2 linked regions of the Homo sapiens genome follow. The protein of the gene in region 1 purifies or fractionates together with the protein of each later gene. This does not show direct contact. Each region holds a gene or a part of one and is shown on either strand. Other genes may lie near its edges. The genes, in order: PAM16 and TIMM17A.

Region 1 (10,638 bases):
GACTAATGGGTGATGAAAACGTTCTGGAACTAATAGTGGTGACAGTGGCACAGCTCTGTGAATAAAAGGCATTGGACTGTGCACTTGAAAATCATGAAATCTACAGTGTATGGATTATATCTCAATAAAGCTGTTACTTTTTTCATTCATGGAGGGCAAGTCACGGCGTTTTAAGGGGTCCAGGTGGGCCTCATTGAGGTGACATTTGAGCAAAGATTTGAAGAAGGGAACGAGCTTCTCAGGCAGGAGGAATGTGGATGAAACCTATTTTGAAGTTTTCTATTTTCTAAAGTATTTTTGAGAATTTAGCATCCTACTCCATATTATGTTCATTGATTTCATATAATGTTGCATTCCCAAATATTTTGGCAAAATCAAGGGCAGAAATCGCCCCACGTCTGACCGATGTGCTTAGCTGCTCCAGCGCACTGGGGTAAGCACGCGGGCAATTGAGACTCCCGGTAACGCCCCTTGCCCTCCCAAGCCCGCCCCCAGTTATCCAGAGCCCGACGCAGGCTCAGTCAAACCCCGCCTCCGACCCCGCCCCGAGCCGCTAAGACGCTCCCGGTGGCCCGCCCTTAGACTGAGGCAATGCGCATGCCCAGCGCCGTATCGCGCACGCGCTCTCTGCGGCTTTCCTTGACCTCTGACCCGCCGACCACGCTTGATCCCCGGCCGCGGGGCCAGGAAGTCGGAGTTTGAGCCCCGGAGGCAGAGCGGCTGCCATGGTGAGCCCCGAGTCGGGCGCTACCGGGGAGGGGAAGCCGAGTCGGGCCGGGGGCCGGGGGCCGGGCGGCGAGCTCCGGGCTGGGCGGCGGGCGCCGTGCGCCCCCTGCGTGCCCGGCGGGAAGCATGGTCTGGGGGCGTTGCACCCGGGGGAATCGAGGCCGGCAGCGGCGGCACCGGCGGCCTCAGGGCCAGGGAAAACCGTCTGCCTGGAAGAGGCCGGGCAAACGTGGTCGCGCTGTGCCTAGCCCGCGTGTGAGCGAGCAGCCGTGGGCAGCGGTGGAGCATGAGTCTGGCTGGTGAGCGCCTCCCCTGCCCTGGAACCTTACAGCGCTGCAGAGTCGATGTTGCTGCCCTGTTGTTATCCCCAGTGGAAAGCTGGCCTTTCCAGGGAAGTGGCTGACCTGGGACTTGAACTAGGCCCCGAGACACCGAGCACGGAGCGTTTGTGTGATATCGTTGGCACGTAGAGCCAGTCAACAGACCTGCGCCACACTGTCAGGTCACCTAGGGTAGCTTTAAAAGTGCAGGTTTGGCTGGGCGCGGTGGCTCACGCCTGTAATCCCAGCACTCTGGGAGGCCGAGGCGGCGGATCACGAGGTCAGGAGTTCGAGACCAGCCTGGCCAACATGATGAAACCCGGTCTCCACCAAAAAATTTAAAAAATTAGCCGGGTGGGGTGGTGCGCGCCTGTAGTCCAAGCTACCCGGGAGGCTGAGGCAGGACAGACGCTTGAACCCGCGAGACAGAGGTTGCAATGAGCCGAGATCCGCCAGTGCACTCTAGCCTGGGCGACAGGGTGAGACTGCGTCTCAAAAAAAAAATTATATATATGTATTATATATACCGTATACATTTATGTATACTACATATTATTATGTTATATATATTTTTATATATCATGTATTTTATATATATATATACACACACACACACATAATATATACATATGTTAGCCAGGCATGGTGGCACACACCTGTAATCCCAGCTGCTTGGGAAGTTGAGGCGCCAGTATCGCTTGAACCCAGGAGGCAGAGGCTGCAGTGAACCAAGATTGTGCCACTGCACTCCAGTCTGGGCGACAGGGCAAAACTCTCTCAAAAAGAAAAAGAGGGGGAAAAAAAAAGTTCAGGTTCTTGAGCTCTATCCCTGGAGGTTCTGCACACGTAAGTTCCCCAAGTGACTCTGTTGCAGCTGGTTCGGGGAGCCACTTCTTAACTAACATAGTAATAAGGATAATGTAACAGCTAACGGCGTACAAGTGCCAGCCCCTGAGCTAAGGCTTTATGTAGAGTCTCTCATTTAGTGTTTATGAAGTCCTGCTGTCATTGTCCTTATTTTACAGATAAGGAACCTGAGCCCCAGACAGTTTTGACTCCACCATAGTCATGCATCCCATGGTGTCAGAGACCTCTTTTGAGCCCAGCTCTGTCCCAAAACTCATGGGGTTTTTTTGGTTTGTTTTTTGAGATAGGATGTCTGTCTGTCGCCCCGGCTAGGATGCAGTGGAGCGATCCTAGCTCACTGCAGCCTTGAACTCCTAGGCTCAAGCCATCCTCCTACCTTAGACCCCCAAGTAGTTGGGCCTACAGGTGAGTGCCAGCACACCTGGCTAATTTTTAAATTTTATGTAGAGGTGGGGTCTTGCTGTGTTGCCCCAGATGGGTCTCCTAGGCTGGAGTACAGTGGTACGATCACAGCTCACTGCAGCCTCAACCTCCTGGGGCTTAGGTGATCCTCCCATTTCATCCTCCCCAGTAGCCTCAGCCTCCCGGGTAGTTGGGACAACAGGCATGCTCCACTATGCCCAGCTAATTTTTTGTATTTTTTGTAGAGATGCAGTTTCGCCATGTTGCCAGGCTGGTCTCAAACTTCTGGGCCCAAGCAGTCCTCCTGCCTCGGACTCCCAAAGTGCTGGGATTATAGGCGTGAGCCACCGCACCCAGCATGACAGTATATTAACAGGAAAAGAAAGTGCTGGCCGGGCACGGTGGCTCACACCTGTAATCCCAGCACTTTGGGGGTCTCAGGCGGGTGGATCACGAGGTCAGGAGATCAAGACCATCCTGGCTAACATGGTGAAACCCCGTCTCTACTAAAAATACAAAAAATTAGCCGGGTGTGGTGGCAGGCACCTGTAGTCCCAGCTACTCAGGAGGCTGAGGCAGGAGAATGGCTTGAACCCGGGAGGCCGAGCTTGCAGTGAGCCGAAGGTCGCGCTACTGCACTCCGGCCTGGGTGACAGAGCAAGACTCCGTCTCAAAAAAAAAAAAAAAAAAAGAAAGTGCTAGGCCGGGTACGGTGGCTCACGCCTGTAATCCCAGCACTTTGGGTGGATTACCTGAGCTCAGGGGTTCGAGACCAGCCTGGGCAACACGGTGAAACCCTCTCTGTACTAAAAATACAAAAAATTAGCCGGGCATGGCAGCGTGTGCCTGTAGTCCCAGCTACTCAGGAGGCTGAGGCAGAAGAATTTCTTGAACCCGGGAGGCAGAGGCTGCAGTGAGCCGAGATCGCACTACTGCACTCCGGCCTGGGCGACAGAGCAAGACTCCATCTCCAAAAAAAAAAGAAAGTGCTGTCGGAAGGTATACATGGGAGAGCCTGGAAAGGGTTTCACCCGGGGGATGGGGAATGATATTAGGTCCTGAGGGATGTTGGGTTTTGACAGGATCAGGGTAGAAGGGAGGATGTTCAAGGTGGAGGAACTCAGAACAGCAAAGGCCCTGAGGAGTACAGAAGTATGAGAGCGGCTCTAGGAGCAGAGGGTGTGGCTGCAGCGTGGAGAGAGGTGAGGTTGAGAAGTTGAGGCCAGACCAGGCGCTGTGAATGCCAAGCTGGGGAGTGGACCAAATCTGCAGGCGGCGGTGGAGAATTGTGTGTTTACTGGGAGATGGCCAGAACCCTCCCGCAGAAGGGTTAGGAGGCGCTTGGAAACCCTGCCTGGGGACATGGAGTTCATGAGACAGCAGATTGGGCAAAGCTGCAACAGCCATATTCATTCAGATGCACCAGGGGCACTTACTGCGCCAGCCACTGGCCAGGTCCCTGATGTTGTGGCACGTGCTACAGTTGTGGTCCTGACCTTTCTCCTGTCTAGTTGTGATGCCCGTATCTATTCTCAGGGGCCCTGGGTGACCAGAGTGTCCTTGAGAGTGAGTCTCAGGCTGTCTGCTTATCTACCCAGAGCCTGGGGCTTGGCCTCAAAGGCGCATTGCACGCGAATCTCAAAGACACAAGTCAGTGTAAGCCCCATTGCTGAGTGCCTCCCACAGCACTGTCTGTGGTCCCAGCTGCTGGGATCTGGTCCTGCCTTGGGCCAGGTTGCTGCCCAACAACGAAGTGCACATGCTGCCCCCACGCATGCCAGGATTGGATCCTGTGCTTCTGACTGCTGCTCTCTGACAGCCGCGTGGCCTGAAGTTGGATGCCAAGTCAGCTGGGTCCTCTCACCTGGGACCCTCAGGCCCAAGTGTCAGTCGGTGGACTATGGGATGTTTGGAGCCTCTGGGAGGGGCCTCAGGCAGTGGTTGTTTTGGTCACCCATGGTAGCCACAGCTGGCAGAGCTCTGCTCCCTGTGAATGAGCTCTGAACTCAGCCTGACCCATGGCAGAAGCTCAGGGGATGTTGGGGTACTGGATAGGTGGATGAGGGGCTTGCCTGCACCGCCTAGTTCTGGACCTGCCGCTGTTTGTCCATGTGGTGTTAATGGGCATTGCCTCCTGAGGGCCTTACTGTCCTCTTGTGAGGAGGGTGTTATTCTCTCCATCTTGCAGTTAAGAAAACTGAGGTAGGCTGGGCACAGTAGCTCACACCTGTAATCCTAGCACTTTGGGAAGCCGAGGAGGGCAGTTCATGCGAACCTAGGAGTTCAAGACCAGCCTGGGCAACATGGCGAAACCCCATCTCTCCAGAAAAGTACATTTAGCCAAATGTGGTGGCGTGTGCTCAGCCTCCAGAAGTTATGAAATTTCCACCTACTTGTGAAATCCTAACCCACTTGTGTTTGTTCATTCCCCTAATGGCCCATATCACATCCCGCCTGTTAAGGAAAGAGCAGGTCCTCGGAGGCTGAGTACAAGTAGCTCCAGCTACTCGGGAGGCTTAAGCAGGAGAATCTCTTGAGGCTGGGAGGCTGAGGCTGCAAGTGAGCCATGATTGCACCACTGCACTCCAGCCTGGACGACAGAGTTAGACTCTGCTTCCAAAAAAAAGGCCAGGTGTGGTGTCTCATGCCTGTAATCCCAGCACTTTGGGAGGCCGAGGCGGGTGGATCACCTGAGGTCAGGAGTTTGAGACCAGCCTGACCAACATGGTGAAACCTCGTCTCTATTAAAAATACAAAATTAGCTAGGCTTGGTTGTGTTCACCTGTAATCCCAGTTACTTGGGAGGGTGAGGCAGGAGGATCGTTTGAACTGGTGAGGTGGAGGTTGCAATGAGCCGAGATTGAACCACTGCACTCTAGCCTGGGTGACAGAGCGAGAGTCAGTCTCAAAAAAATAAATAAAAAATAAAAGACCCAAACCAAAACAAAAAAAGATTCAGAGAGGTTGAGTAATTTGTCCAGGGTCACACAGCTATTGAGAAAGAAAGCTAGGGTTCTGGTCCCAGGTCAACGTGGTTCTCGTTCTGCTTCCTTGCTGCTTCCCAGCTCCCTGAGGGAATGTAGTATGGTGTTTTGCAGCCTTCACCCCTGAGGAAGCAAAGGGCCTGTATCAAATGAGCTGCTATTTTGAAAGAAGCTTTGTTACTTCATAGTGCCTGGTCATTGTCAGATTTTGTGAAACAGTAGTAATGAATGAAAACCAATGTTTATTGAGCACCTGCTGTACCATTAGGCTGTGTGCCAGGCATTTGACAGGCATTATCTCAGCTTTATTGGTGGCCACATTTTACAGGTAAGCAAACTGGGTTGCTCAAAGGAGTTGAGAACGTGTCTATGTCAGATAGCTGGGATTTTTGCACACAGGTGATCCCAAAGCCTGCAGGTGTAACCATTACACTACACTGCGTCTTCTCAGAGATGCCTCCTATAGGAACCTTGCTGGCCTCAATGGGCCGTCCAGTCTGCTGAAACTTTGCAGGCCAGCCCCCCTCTGCCCTGCAGCTCTAGGCAGCTGAAGCCACAGGCCACCACGCCGCTTTGGTTTGAAGTGTGCAGGGGATGGTCGGGGAAGCTCCCCAGTTATGACCTCAGCTCTTACCGTTCATTATTTTGCAACAGTCATTGGCCTTGGCAGAAAAGTAAACAAGTGATTGCAAGGCTGTACGATGGCAGCAGAGGGACCGAAGGCTGTTGGTGTGAGGGGTAGTCTGAGACCTGAGCCGTGTTTCAAGCCGAGGGGACCCTCTGACTTTCACCTCTGTCCTTCAGACAGCACCAGCATCCCATCCCTGAGCCTCCTGTTCCACTCGGGAGGGGCTTTAGGAAGGAGGCGAAGTCAGGTGAGACCGCAGGTGTCATCAGGTGCATCCCTGACCCTCCCTCATCTGCAGTACAGCCACAGCCCTGCCCCTCGCTGTGATCACAGGAGGGTCTTCTCTGGGCTCTTTCTGCTGTGAAATCCAGAAGTTATGAAGTTTCCACCTACTTTTGAAATCTTAACCCACTTGTTTGTTCATTCCCCTAATGGCCCATAATGACATCCCACCTGTTAAGGAAAGAGCAGGTCCTCGGAGGCTGAACAAGGCCAGCTCTGGAGTCGAATCCACTGGAATCTGGAGCAAGCCCCTCTGGCCTCGGGGTTGGGTTCTTGATACTTGTCGGCTTGCCCAGGTGCCCTACCTTCAGACCCCGGGACCCTGCGTAGTGACTGCTGTGACAGATAGCACCAGCCTTGGGTTTCCGATCTGCCTCCGAGGCACCTGCTGTTACGTCCTCGGGCCAGTCAGCAGTCCCCCACCCCTGAGTTGTCAGAATTAAACGGCACAATGAATTGAACGTGTTTGGCACCGTGCCTGGTGTGTGGACTCAGTTGATACTTGTTGACTGAAGGCAAATCTACAGAAAAGCACTAGGAAGAAAGGGAAAGTCACTCGGCTGTGCCACATGAGCTTTCAACCTATGCCGAGCTGCCTCCAGCCCGCGCCACCCCCCTGCGTCTACGGCTTTGCAGTCACAAGATCCTTTGTATGTGCTGTCTATATATAATCGCTTTGTTTCACAAAGATCTGTGCATCTTTCCATGTCATCCGCCAGATTCCCAGTCTTTCCCAGGCCAGCCTAGGCTATTGGCTGCTCGCAGGAACTCCCTTCTGCCTTCTCTCCTGCCAGTTTTGGCTCAACCCAGTCCCTCTGCCTAGAAAGCCCTAGTATTTCCATCATGATTCTTCCTACCCTGCAAAGCCCAGCCCAGGAGGAACCCCCTCCTCTCACGGAACCCCCTCCTCTCACAGAACCCCCTCCTCTCACACAATCCCCTCCTCTCACACAATCCCCTCCTCTCACAGAACCCCCTCCTCTCACGGAACCCCCTCCTCTCACAGAACCCCCTCCTCTCACGGAACCCCCTCCTCTCACGGAACCCCCTTCTCTCACGGAACCCCCTCCTCTCACAGAACCCCCTCCTCTCACGGAACCCCCTCCTCTCACGGAACCCCCTCCTCTCACAGAACCCCCCCTCACACAATCCCCTCCTCTCACGGAACCCCCTCCTCTCACAGAACCCCCTCCTCTCACGGAACCCCCTCCTCTCACACAGTCCCCTTCTCTCACAGAACCCCCTCCTCTCACAGAACCCCCTCCTCTCACAGAACCCCCTCCTCTCACACAGTCCCCTCCTCTCAGAGAACCCCCTCCTGTCACACAGTCCCCTCCTCTCACAGAACCCCCTCCTCTCACACAGAACCCCCTCCTCTCACACAGAACCCCCTCTTCTCACACAGAACCCCCTCCTCTCACGGAACCCCCTCCTCTCACAGAACCCCCTCCTCTCACACAGAACCCCCTCCTCTCACAGAACCCCCTCCTCTCACGGAACCCCCTCCTCTCACGGAACCCCCTCCTCTCACGGAACGCCCTCCTCTCACACAGAACCCCCTCCTCTCACCGAATCCCATCTCAGTCTTGAGTTTTCCCTCGACTCTGTTGCTTCCGCTCACATCTTAGTGAGTCCCCAGGGCCTCTGCGGGGCATGGAATCACACGTGCAGTGTTCCGGCATGTTCAGCCTGGTGTGTGACAGTGGGGTTCCCTGCCAGGCCAGCAGTGTGCTCTGACTCGGGGCAGGGACCAGGTTCTGTGTAGCTTTGTGCTCAAGTGCTGAGCAGAGTAGACTCTCAGCAGATGTTTGAATGAATGGGTGAACCAATGGCTGCACAAATGAACGAGCCTGACTCTCCCTCATGATTTGGTCCATAGTGTGTTTAAATACCCTCCTAGTGGGCTTTTAGCTCCTTGAAGATGGAAACAGGTTTGCATAGTAAGTTTGTTTTATTGAATGGAATGGACTTAAAGTCTTCGGACTTGGGAGAATTAGGACAGATCTGTTTCCCCGTTGGTAAAGTAAAGGTTGGGCCTGATGATCTCAGAAACTCAGGAAGAGTGATGGTCGGCCCCAGGGTCGAGAGTGAGTTACTGCCAGGTCCAGGGCTGTCCCTGTGTTCTGGCTCCCAGACCACAGTGTTTCTTCCTGAAGCCGGTGGTTGCAGCCACTTTGCCTTGCTCCTCTACGCCTTTCCTGAAGGATGAGGTGGGGCCAGTCTGCCTCTGGGAGCTCGGTCAAGTTCACCCGCCTGCCTGCCTGTCCAGTGAGTAACTAAGCCACCCACCATGGAAGCTTTCATTCAGGGTGCTTTGGAGGGGTTGGCCTGGGGCTGCAGCTCTGTGCTTCATGACCTCGGGTCTCCGGGAGCCTTGCCCCTCGGCAGCCGTTTCCAGGGCCCATCTCTGTGGGCCCACAGGGAGTGGCCTGCTAACCGGGTGCCTGCTTTGCCCACAGGCCAAGTACCTGGCCCAGATCATTGTGATGGGCGTGCAGGTGGTGGGCAGGGCCTTTGCACGGGCCTTGCGGCAGGAGTTTGCAGGTAAGCATGGGTCCGTCTCCCCTGTGGGCTGGGAGTTCCTCTCCAGGTCAGATTTTCCCCGTAGCCATGGGCACCTCAGGCCTGGCGGTTCTGAAGTGTGCGTGGCCTGAGGCACTTCCCATGGTGGGGGGTGATGCCAGACCGGGGCATTCTTCAGTGGTACCTGGTTAGCAAGAGCATCCAGGGCAGGAGCTGGCACACTGGCCCATCTGGATACCTGATTTTGTAAACTTGTTTTTTCTTTTTTTGGAGATGGAGTCTCACTCTGTCGCCCAGGCTGGAATGCAGTGGGGCAATCTTGGCTCACTGCAACCTCTGCCTCCTGGTTCAAGTGATTCTCCTCCCTCAGCCTCCTGAGTAGCTGGGAATACAAGCACCCGACACCATACCAGGCTAATTTTTGTATTTTTAGTAGAGACGGGGTTTCACTATGTTGGCCATGCTGGTCTGGAACGCCTGACTTCAGGTGATCCGCCTGCCTCAAAGTGCTGGGATTACAGGTGTGAGCCACAGCGCCCGGCCCTGGTTTTGTAAATAAATCTTTTTTTTTTGAGACGGAGTTTTCGCTCTTGTTGCCCAGGCTGGAGTGCAATAGTGCGATCTTGGCTCACTGCAACCTCTGCCTCCCGGGTTCAAGCAATTCTTCTGCCTCAGCCTCCTGAGTAGCTGGGACTACAGGCATGCGCCACCATGCCCGGCTAATTTTGTATTTTTAGTAGAGACGGGGTTTCTCCGTGTTGGTCAGGCTGGTCTTGAACTCCCAACCTCACGTGATATGCCCACCTCGGCCTCCTGAAGTACTGGGATTACAGGCGTGAGCCACCGCACCCAGCCCTTTTGTTTTCTTTTGAGACGGAGTCTCACTGTGTTGCCCAGGCTGGAGTGCAATGGTGCGATCTTGGCTCACTGCAACCTCTGCCTCCCGGGTTCAAGCAATGCTCCTGCCTCAGCCTCTCCAGTAGCTGGGACTACAGGCATGTGCCACCACACCCAGCTGATTTTTGTATTTTTAGTAATTTTGTATTTTACAGGTTTTCATCATTTTGGCCAGGATGGTCTCGATCTCTTGACCTCGTGATCTGCCCTCCTTGGCCTCCCAAAGTGCTGGGATTACAGGCGTGAGCCACTGTGCCCGGCCGACAGGCTGCTTTCAAGGCAGAGTTGAATGGTTCCAGTGTAGGCTCATTAGCCCGCAAAGCCTAAAATAGCTACTCTCTGAGCCTTTAGGAAAAGTTTAGCAGCTCCTGATTCTAGGTTCTGGGGTCACTGAAAGGGGAGAGGTCACCCAAGGCAGTGGCTTTGGTGGTCTAGGTGACAGGTGGGCAGCTGGGCCCCTGCAGAGCCCTCTCATGCCCGCAGCCCCACTATACAGTCTCCATCGTAGCCTAAAGCTCCCCAATTTGCTGTTCCCCTGGGATATGGGGGTTGGGGGACAGGGTCATCTCATGGTCTAGGTTGGGGACCAGGAGCCAGGATTAGCGGTCAGATCCTGCCCTTACCCTCCAGTGAGGCACGTCTGTCCTCACTTTCCCAGCCTCTACCCCCTAAAAAGGAAACCACTCCTGGAGAAGAGGCAGCTCCTAGCCACCTGTCCCTGTGTCTCTCATCCTGTGCTGGTGGCAGGGGTGAGCCACCAACTCGGAAGGCCCAGGGTGAAGTGTGGGCTGCTGAGGACTGAGCGATCACCCACATGTCCACACAGCCAGCCGGGCCGCAGCTGATGCCCGAGGACGCGCTGGACACCGGTCTGCAGCCGCTTCCAACCTCTCCGGCCTCAGCCTCCAGGAGGCACAGCAGATTCTCAACGTGTCCAAGCTGAGCCCTGAGGAGGTCCAGAAGGTGAGGCCACTGGGCCACCCCAAAGTTTGAGAGGGAGAGGCTGCCA
Region 2 (9,300 bases), on another chromosome or scaffold:
GTGTTTATTCAAACTTGTGTTTGCATGTATTTGTTTGGACTATAAATTTTGAGACTATAGTGAGTATGTTTTTGACTATAATATTTTAAATGGAAGATGAAATTTAAATTAGTATTTGCTTGTTTCTTTTTACAATAAAATAGGTAGCTTTGCAGTTTGGGGAGGGCTGTTTTCCATGATTGACTGTAGTATGGTTCAAGTCAGAGGAAAGGAAGATCCCTGGAACTCCATCACAAGTGGTGCCTTAACGGGAGCCATACTGGCAGCAAGAAGTAAGTAGTCATTACAGACATACTAGTAGAAGCCACACTTTTAGGAAAACCTCATCTGCCTCAATTGAATGACATCTGTAATATATAAAACTGATTATTGACCAGGCACATTGGCTCATGACTATAATTCCATCACTTGGGAGGCTGAGGCAGGTAGATTGCACAAGTCCAGGAGCTTGAGATCAGATATAGGGAGACCTGGTCTCTACAAAAAAAAAAATTTAATTAGCTGGGTGTGTTGGTGCATGCCTATAGTCCCAGCTACTCATGAGGCCGAGGCAGGAGGATCACTTGAGCCACCGCACTCTCACCTGGGCAACAGAGTGAGACCCTGCTTCAAAAAAAATAATAATTATAAAACTGAGCATTGTTTAATTTGGCATAGCATAAATATACAGTATATGGTGATTTGAAAAAAAAGTAAGGGGATCTATTTATTTGGAATATTTGAGAATGAAAGAGCATGGAATTCTAACCCATATATTACAGTGGTTGAGAGCACTTCAGGTCCCAGTTCTGCCATTAATTAGCTGTATGACTGGTCAGTTTACCAAACTTTTTATGCTATAATTTCTTCACCAGTAATCTGGAGTTAATTAATAATTACACCTGCCATATAGAGTTGTTATGAATAAGGAACTTAGAACCATCTTCTGGATCCTCAGGACAGAGAATTCCTTTGAGCTTAGTGGTTTAGACCAAGGGATTTGCAAACTATTTCTGTAAAAGGCCAGATAGTGAATATTTTAGGCTTTGTGGGCTGTGTGGTCTTTGTCATAGCTACCTAAATCTGCTGTCATAGCATGAAAGCAGCCATGGATAATACATAAACGAAACAGTATGGCTGTGTTTCAGTAAAACTTTATTTATTTATTTATTTTATTTTATTTCTTTTTTTTTTTTTTTTTTTTTTTTTTTTTTTGAGACTGAGTCTCACTCTGTCGCCCGAGCTGGAATGCAGTGGCGCAATCTCGGCTCACTGCAAGCTCTGCCTCCCGGGTTCAAGCGATTCTCCTGCCTCAGCCTCCCGAGTAGCTGGGACTACAGGTGTGTGCCACCACGCCTGGCTAATTTTTTGTATTTTTAGTGGAGACGGGGTTTTACCATGTTAGCCAGGATGGTCTCGATCTCCTGACCTCGTAATCCACCCACCTCGGCCTCCCAAAGTGTTGGGATTACGGGCGTGAGCCACTGCGCCCGGCCCTATTTATTTATTTATTTTCTTGAGACGGAGTCTTACTCTGTCACCCAGGCTGGAGTGCAGTGGCACAATCTCGGCTCACTGCAACCTCTGCTTCCTGGGTTCAAGCAATTCTCCTGCCTCAGCCTCCTGAGAAGCTGGGACTACAGGTGCCCGCCACCACGTCAAGCTAATTTTTGTATTTTTAGTAGAGACGGGGTTTCCCCATGTTGGCCAGGCTGGTCTCGAACTCCTGACCTCATGATCTGCCTGCCTCAGCCTCCCAAAGTGCTGGGATTTATGGCCTTTCAGTAAAACTTTATTTACAAAAATAGGCAGTGGGTGGACTGTGGGTGGCTGTAGTTTACTGACTCTGGGTCTTAGGCAATAAGAAAGAGTTTGGGAGTTGGGGGAGCATGTCACCATATGGACAGTTCTCTTCTTTACTATCTCTTACAGTAAACTAGATTTCTGTAAAAAATAATCTCTTTGTTATTAATGTCTTCAGATGGACCAGTGGCCATGGTTGGGTCAGCCGCAATGGGTGGCATTCTCCTAGCTTTAATTGAAGGAGCTGGTATCTTGTTGACAAGATTTGCCTCTGCACAGTTTCCCAATGGTGAGTCTTTTTGCTTAAAACTATAGCTCAAACATTTTGGAATGGTTTTCTGATGTTAAGAAAGAACATACTTTGTGTGATAAAATGTGTGGTATGTATTAATATGCTGTGGTTCATGAGGACTGTGATAATAGGTAAAAAATGAACATGTTATATTTAGCCACAAAAACAAAAATTTTTTGTATAAATTTGCTGTTGATCTTTCTTTATAGTACTTAGGGTTTATCAGTGCTCATGTCTTGCAAGAAATGTCTGATCATTTTAAAGGGACTTGAAGAATGGTTCTGCAGATGTATAACAATCATGATGGTCAATTGACAATTTAGTATTGTACATCTACATGCCAGACACTGTTTTAGGTAGTGAACAGGACAGTTCCTGCCCTCAAGGACTTACATTCTGGTAGGGGGAGACAGACTAACACATTAACAGATAAATTAGCTTATTTTAGATAGTGTTGCTTGTTTTGAAGAAGAGAATAGTGGAAAGTGACTCATATTTGGGAAGGTCACTTTAGGGTTCACAGTAGAAGTATCTTAGAAAATGTGTTAGCCCGGCTAATTTTTATATTGGTTTAATTTGTTGCCTGTTGTTCCTCCTATATGATGCATAGGGTAATAATTAAATTGTGGGCTGAATGATCATTACATGGTTATAGAATGTGCTCTCAGCTGATTAGCCAGGCATAATGGCTCACACCTATAGTCCTAGCTACTCAGGAGGCACGAGAATCAGTTGAACCTGGGAGGTGGAGGTTGCAGTGAGCCGAGATCACACCACTGCACTCTAGGCTGGTCGATGGAGCGAGACTCTGTCTCAAAATGAAACAAACAGAAAACTTCTATCAAGATGGTGCATTCCTGTAGTTCCAGCTACTCAGGAGGCCACTCACTTGACCCCAGGAGTTCAAGGCCAGCCTGGGCAACAGAGCAAGACCCCATCTCTTAAAAAAAAATTTCAGTGTCTAAATGAAAATATCCCTTGACAATGGAAGGATGCAAAAAGATATTGTGAGGTGGCCGGGCACGGTGGCTCACACCTGTAATCCCAGCATTTTGGGAGACTGAGGCAGGTGGATCACTTGAGGTCAGGAGTTTTGAGAGCAGCCTGGCCAACGTGGTGAAACCCCGTCTCTACTAAAAATACAAATTAGCAGGGCATGGTGGCACACGCCTGTAATCGCAGCTCCTTGGGAGGCTGAGGTACAAGAATCACTTGAACCTGGGAGGCAGAGATTGCAGTGAGCTGAGATCACACCATTGCACTCCAGCCTGGGCAACAGAGCAAGACTCCATCTCAAAAAATATATATATATATAACATATATATGTTATATATATGCTATATATGTTATATATTATATATGTTATATAATATGTATGTTATATGTTGTATATATGTTATGTATTATATATGTTATATATTATATATGTTGTATATTATATATGTTGTGTGTGTGTGTGTGTGTGTGTGTATATATATATAGTGAGGATAGTAGTAGTGAAAATTTGACCTGGCATTTGGGAAGGAAAAAAATACGTAGAATAGTGAGACATGTTGAAAATTATTTTTGGAGCTTGGAAAAGATTCAGCATAAAGTTAGGAATAGATCATACATCCCAATTTGCTTTGATTTCCCTGAGGCACCTAGCAAGAGATTCAGTATCTTTTTGGCACAATTTTCAAGTGCACTGCTCGTTAAATGGCAGTGAGTAATCTAGATGACCCTGCAGACCCTCTCACCTTCTGTTTGTTTTTCATTCCTTACTTCTGAGTTAACACTCTGTAGTGATGGTCACTTTCCAATTTTGTTTTGACTGCTTCAGTGTGAAAGACTTTACATAAAACATCAAAACAGTTCCATATTCACAGAAATTCAGAAATGGATATAGTTAACTTAAATAGTTACATTGTCTCATAGAAATTAGCCTTGAGTACTTTGTTTTAGGCTTTTTTCCTCAGAGGGAATCTCCTTTTTATTTATTTATTTTATTTATTTATTTATTTATTTTAATTTTTTTTGAAACAGAATCTCTGTGACCCCGGCTGGAGTGCAGTGGTGCAATCTCGGCTCACTGCAGCCTTGACCTCCTGGGCTCAGGCGATCCTCCCACCTCAGCCTCTTGAGCAGCTGGGACTATAGGTGTGCACCGCTATGCCCGGCTAATTTTTATATTTTTTGTAGAGATGAGGTCTCTGCCCAGGCTGATCCTAAACTCCTGGGCTCAAGCGATCCTCCCTGCCTCGGCCTCCCAAAGTGCTGGGATTACAGGGGTGAGCCACCGTGCCCAGCTGGAATCTCCTTTTTAGTAATTAAAACTCAGCATTTATATAGAAGCAGCCTAAAAGAGGTGTATTTATTTTTAGACAAGAGATGTGTTTCTGAAAAGCTGTGTAGGGGGGAAATCTTTGAAAACTTAATCATATTTTTCCAGTGAACTTACATGAAAAAGTTTGTCTTGTTTTGTTTTTGAGACAGAGTCTCGGTCTGTCGCCCAGGCTGGATTGCAGTGGTGCAATCTCAGCTTACTGCACCCTCCGCCTCCGGGGTGCAAGCGATTCTTCTGTCTCAGCCTCCTGAGTAGCTGGGACTACAGGTGCGCAACATCACACCTGGCTCATTTTTTTTTTGTATTTTTTAGTAGAGATGCAGTTTCACCATATTGGTCAGGCTGGTCTCGAACTCCTGACCTCGTGATCCGCCCGCCTTGACCTCCCAAAGTGCTGGGAATGTGAGCCATCGCGCCCAGCAAAAAAGTTTTTAAAACAGTGAAAAAAGGTTAGACAGAACTGTATGTAAATGGCAACAGTGGTTTTCATCGGCTTATCTTTTTTTGGGGTTTTTTTGTTTTTGTTTGTTTTTTTTTTTTTAGACAGACTTGCTCTGTCTCGCAGGCTGGAGTGCAATGGCGCGATCTCTTCTCACTGCAACCTCCACCTCCCAGGTTCAAGTGATTCTCCTGCCTCAGCTCCTGAGTAGTTGGGATTACAGACACCCTCCACCATGCCCAGCTAATTTTCATATTTTCAGTAGAGACGGGGTTTCGCCATGTTGTCCTGACCTCAGGTGATCTGCCCGCCTCAACCTCCCAAAGTGCTGAGATTACAGGCGAGAGCCACCGCACCCGGCCCCAGCTTATCTTTTTTACCCAGTATCTTCTCAAGTTTTCTGTAATTAACAGATAGTTGCATTTATAGTGAAGTAAAAATATATGAGTGAAACACTTTGAAAACTTCAGAGAATTCTGCCACTGCCCTCTTTCTCTCTTCCTTCCAGATATTTTTTAGTCTACTTCAGTTTTTCTTAAAGGAGAAAAGATTGATTCATCCCCTAAAAGTCTTTTTTTTTTTTTTAAGCCACTTTGTTTTACTTAGTTCACAGGCTCTCCTATCCTTTGAAAATGAAAACTGCAAGACTTTGTTCTACAGTAAGCTAGGGGGTGTCTTCCCATTTCAGAGCTCATTCCCTACTTAATTGGTTATATAAATTGGATTACCAAGTTCTCTTAAAACATGACTAGGATACTTATACTTTGTGAAAATAATTTTAAATAGCTACTGAAAAATATGACAAGAAGTGGGAGAAACTCTTCTAATCTTGATATATGGCAGCTTGTTACAGCAATTGCTTTAAAAACTTGAAGTTTGCTTCTTGCTATAATTAATCCGTCTGACTTTCCTAGCATAGTGTTTGAAAACTGTTCATTCTGGAGCATAGCAAGCCAGTCTGTCATATGTTATACCAAATTTGAAGGTTCTCCAGTACTCTTATGGGAATTAGGCAGATCTATAAAGAAATTTAGGGTTATAGCTTTAATTTAGCACATTTTTTTGTTGTTGATTGATTTACTCTCTATAGAGATTTGTTCTTTTTAATAATATAATATTCAGGTGATTTTTAAATCCTTTTTATTTCTCACTTGCAGGTCCTCAGTTTGCAGAAGACCCCTCCCAGTTGCCTTCAACTCAGTTACCTTCCTCACCTTTTGGAGACTATCGACAATATCAGTAGGACTTCTTTCCTAGGATTTCTTTAACAGAACGAGTTGTGGTTCGAGAAGGATTTCAGAAGATCAAGTTACAGTCTGTTTTTAAAACCATAGGTGGGACAGCTATGGCCAATAGGCTATAAAGAGACATTTAGCACTTTTTTCTATTTAAAGGAACAAGCGGGGAAGGGTGCTAAAAGATAATACGTTTATTTATTCACACTTGAATTGCATTTGTGATCAAAATAAATGTTTAAATCGCTAAAGGAAAATACAGTAAGTGCTTGAAAGATGAAGGACCAAAAGGCCAAAAAACAGTGAAATATGATCATCATCTCCTTGCGGACTTCTCTGCCTGGTTTTGTGTGTTCTGTTATTCAAACAATAAAAAGCTGGTGGAACTTACTCTTTCTTTTAAGATAAGTTGTAGACTTCGATGTTTCATGCTCATGTACTTCAAATAATGCATGTTTTATAGTTAGTCCCTCATCACTTGAAGTGACTTCTGAGAATTATGCAGAGTCAACATGGATCATTTCACAGTGAGATGCTTTATGGATTGAAGGATATGGTAAAATGTTTATAGTTTACTTTGAAAGTAAAATATACTATGTCTTGGTTTTGAGGATATTGGATACAAAACTCTCTTCCTTTAGGGCTACTGAGTCTTGATTCCTGATCATCAGAAATTTCACCAGAAACAACTTGCTTCCAATATACCCAATTCTATATGAAGAATTCATGGAGAGTGTACTGGCACTGGAAGAGTTTAGTGTTTCTTGTATGCTTGAAAATAAAGTATGTACTGTTTTGAATGTGTTCCAAGTCCTCTGCATAAACGATGTATTTTGGGGTCTGGTTGGGCCTGGAAAATGGATGAGCACTTCAGAACAGGTCATTTTCCTGATATTGGAAGTGACATGTGGCCCTATAGGAGGCATGATGTTAGTTAATTACACATTTGCCTACATCTGTGGGAAATGGAGAACAAAGCCATGTGGGTACTGTAAACACACGTTTATCTTTTGGCCCAATGCCATACATATGGTAGGCATTTAATTACTGATTGTGTTTGGATAATTTGGGAATTTTCGACTGTGGTAAAATATACATAAAATAATACTTATTAACCATTTGTAAGTGTATAATTCAGTGGCATTGAAATACAGTCATAATGTTGTATAACAGCCACCATTATGTATACCCAAAATGTTCTCATTATCATCAACATAAACTCCGTTTTGTTTTTAGAGACAGTGTCTTACTCTGTCACCCAGGCTGGAATGCAGTGGCACAGTCATAGCTTACTGCAGCCTCGAACTCCTGGCTTCGAGCCATCCTTCTGCCTCAGCCTCCCACACCCCATGCTGGGATTACAGGCATGAGCCACCATGTCCAGCCTTCACAAACATAAACTCTGTACCTGTTAAATAATAACTTCCCATTCTTTCCTCGCCACAACCACTAGTAACCACAATTCTGCTTTCTGTCTGTGAATTTGCCTTTTCTGGGTACCTTATATAAGTGGAATCATAAAATATTTGTTTTTGTGTGTCCGTCTTAATGCACTTAGCGTGTTTTAAGGTCCATGTAGTAGCATGTAGCAAAATTTATTTTTAGGGCTGAATAATATTCCATAGTGTGCATATACTACATTTTATTTGATGATCAGTTAGGTTGTTTCTACCTTTTGGCTATTGTGAATTATGCTGCTATGAACATTGGTGTACAACTATCTGTTTCAACTCCTATTTTTGGTTCTTTTGGATATATACATAAGAGTGAGATTACCGAGTCATATGGTAGTTCTAGGTTTAACTTTTTTTTTTTTAAAGACACAAGAGTCTGGCCGGGTGCAGTGGCTCACGTCTGTAATCCCAGCACTTTGGGAGGCCAAAGCGGGCAGGTCACAAGCTCAGGAGTTCGAGACCATCCTGGCTAACACAGTGAAATCCCGTCTCTACTAAAAATACAAAAAATTAGCTGGGCGTGGTGGTGGGCGCCTGTGGTCCCAGCTACTTTGGAGGCTGAGGCAGGAGAATGGCGTGAATCCGGGAGGTGGAGCTTGCAGTGAGCCGAGATCTTGCCACTACTCCAGCCTGGGCGACAGAGCGAGACTCCGTCTCAAAAATATAAAAGAAAGTGCTGGGCGCGGTGGCACACGCCTGTAATCCCAGCACTTTGGGAGGCTGAGGAGGGTGAATCACGAGGTCAGGAGTTCGAGACCAGCCTGGCCAACATGGTGAAACCCGGTGGGTACTAAAAATACAAAAAATTAGCTGGTAATGGTGCCGGGCACCTATAATCCCAGCTATTTGGGAGGCTGAGGCAGGAGAATCACTTGAACCTGGGAGGGAAGAGGTTGTAGTGAGCCAAAATCACACCACTACACTCCAGCCTGGGCAACAGTGCAAGACTGTCTCAAAACAAAAAAGTAATCCACTATTGCATGCCAATTTGGCACAAGATGTCAGATACAAAGCAAAACAGATGGGGTATTTCTGATGGGCATTTCAACCTTAAAAGTGAGAAACTAACTTCACTATTCCAGTAAAGACCTAGGGAAAACCTCCTTCCTAATCTGCTTGTTTCTCCAGTTATTTATTTCAGTTATTAAAACAATTTAGTTTTTTTACTTTTTATCTTGAGCTCTACTCTAGTATACCAAATTTAGTTTTAGAATATTTATTAAACAGTTCAGCTGGGGATGGTGGCTCATACCCATAATCCCAGCATTTTGGGAGGCTGAAGCAGGAAGGTCGCTTGAGGTCAGGAGTTGGAGACTAGCCTGGGCTAGTGAGACGCTAGCCACAAAATGTAAATTTAGCCAGAGATAGGGTGCACACCTGTAGTACCGGCTGCTTGGGAGGCTGAGGCGGGAGGATCCCTTGAGTCTAGGTGGTCAAGCCTGTAGTGACCTATGATTATGCCACTGCACTTCAGCCTGGGCAACAGAACAAGACTCTTTTGTTTGTTTGTTTGTTTGTTTGTTTGTTTGAGATGGAGTGCTAGGATTACAGGCATGAGCCACTGCACCTGGCCAGCACTTTCTTTAAATAGAGACAGAGTTTTGCCACATTGTCAAGGCTGATCTTGAACTCCTGGACTCAATCCTCCCACCTCGGCCTCCCAAAGTGCTGGGATTACAGGCGTGAGCCACTGTGCCTGGCCGAAATAGTGGATTTCTGAATCAGGGTTTGGAAGACATGGGTACAGCTGCACCTGCTATTGAAAGTGCATC

The links.
Region 2: the proteins of PAM16 (region 1) and TIMM17A purify together in Homo sapiens (affinity purification with western blotting; 2 studies listed by BioGRID). This does not show direct contact.

The regions. Positions count from the first base shown.
Region 1 is NC_000016.10:4,341,322-4,351,959, reverse strand, and holds the start of PAM16 (mitochondrial import inner membrane translocase subunit TIM16), read left to right. Parts: upstream 1-638; 5' UTR 639-725; coding exon 726-728; intron 729-8,668; coding exon 8,669-8,753; intron 8,754-10,455; coding exon 10,456-10,592; intron 10,593-10,638. Other genes in the region: CORO7-PAM16 protein, read left to right, coding at 8,669-8,753, 10,456-10,592. UniProt on the Homo sapiens protein: Regulates ATP-dependent protein translocation into the mitochondrial matrix. Inhibits DNAJC19 stimulation of HSPA9/Mortalin ATPase activity.
Region 2 is NC_000001.11:201,963,473-201,972,772, forward strand, and holds the end of TIMM17A (mitochondrial import inner membrane translocase subunit Tim17-A), read left to right. Parts: intron 1-143; coding exon 144-272; intron 273-1,960; coding exon 1,961-2,071; intron 2,072-5,996; coding exon 5,997-6,082; 3' UTR 6,083-7,192; downstream 7,193-9,300. UniProt on the Homo sapiens protein: Essential component of the TIM23 complex, a complex that mediates the translocation of transit peptide-containing proteins across the mitochondrial inner membrane.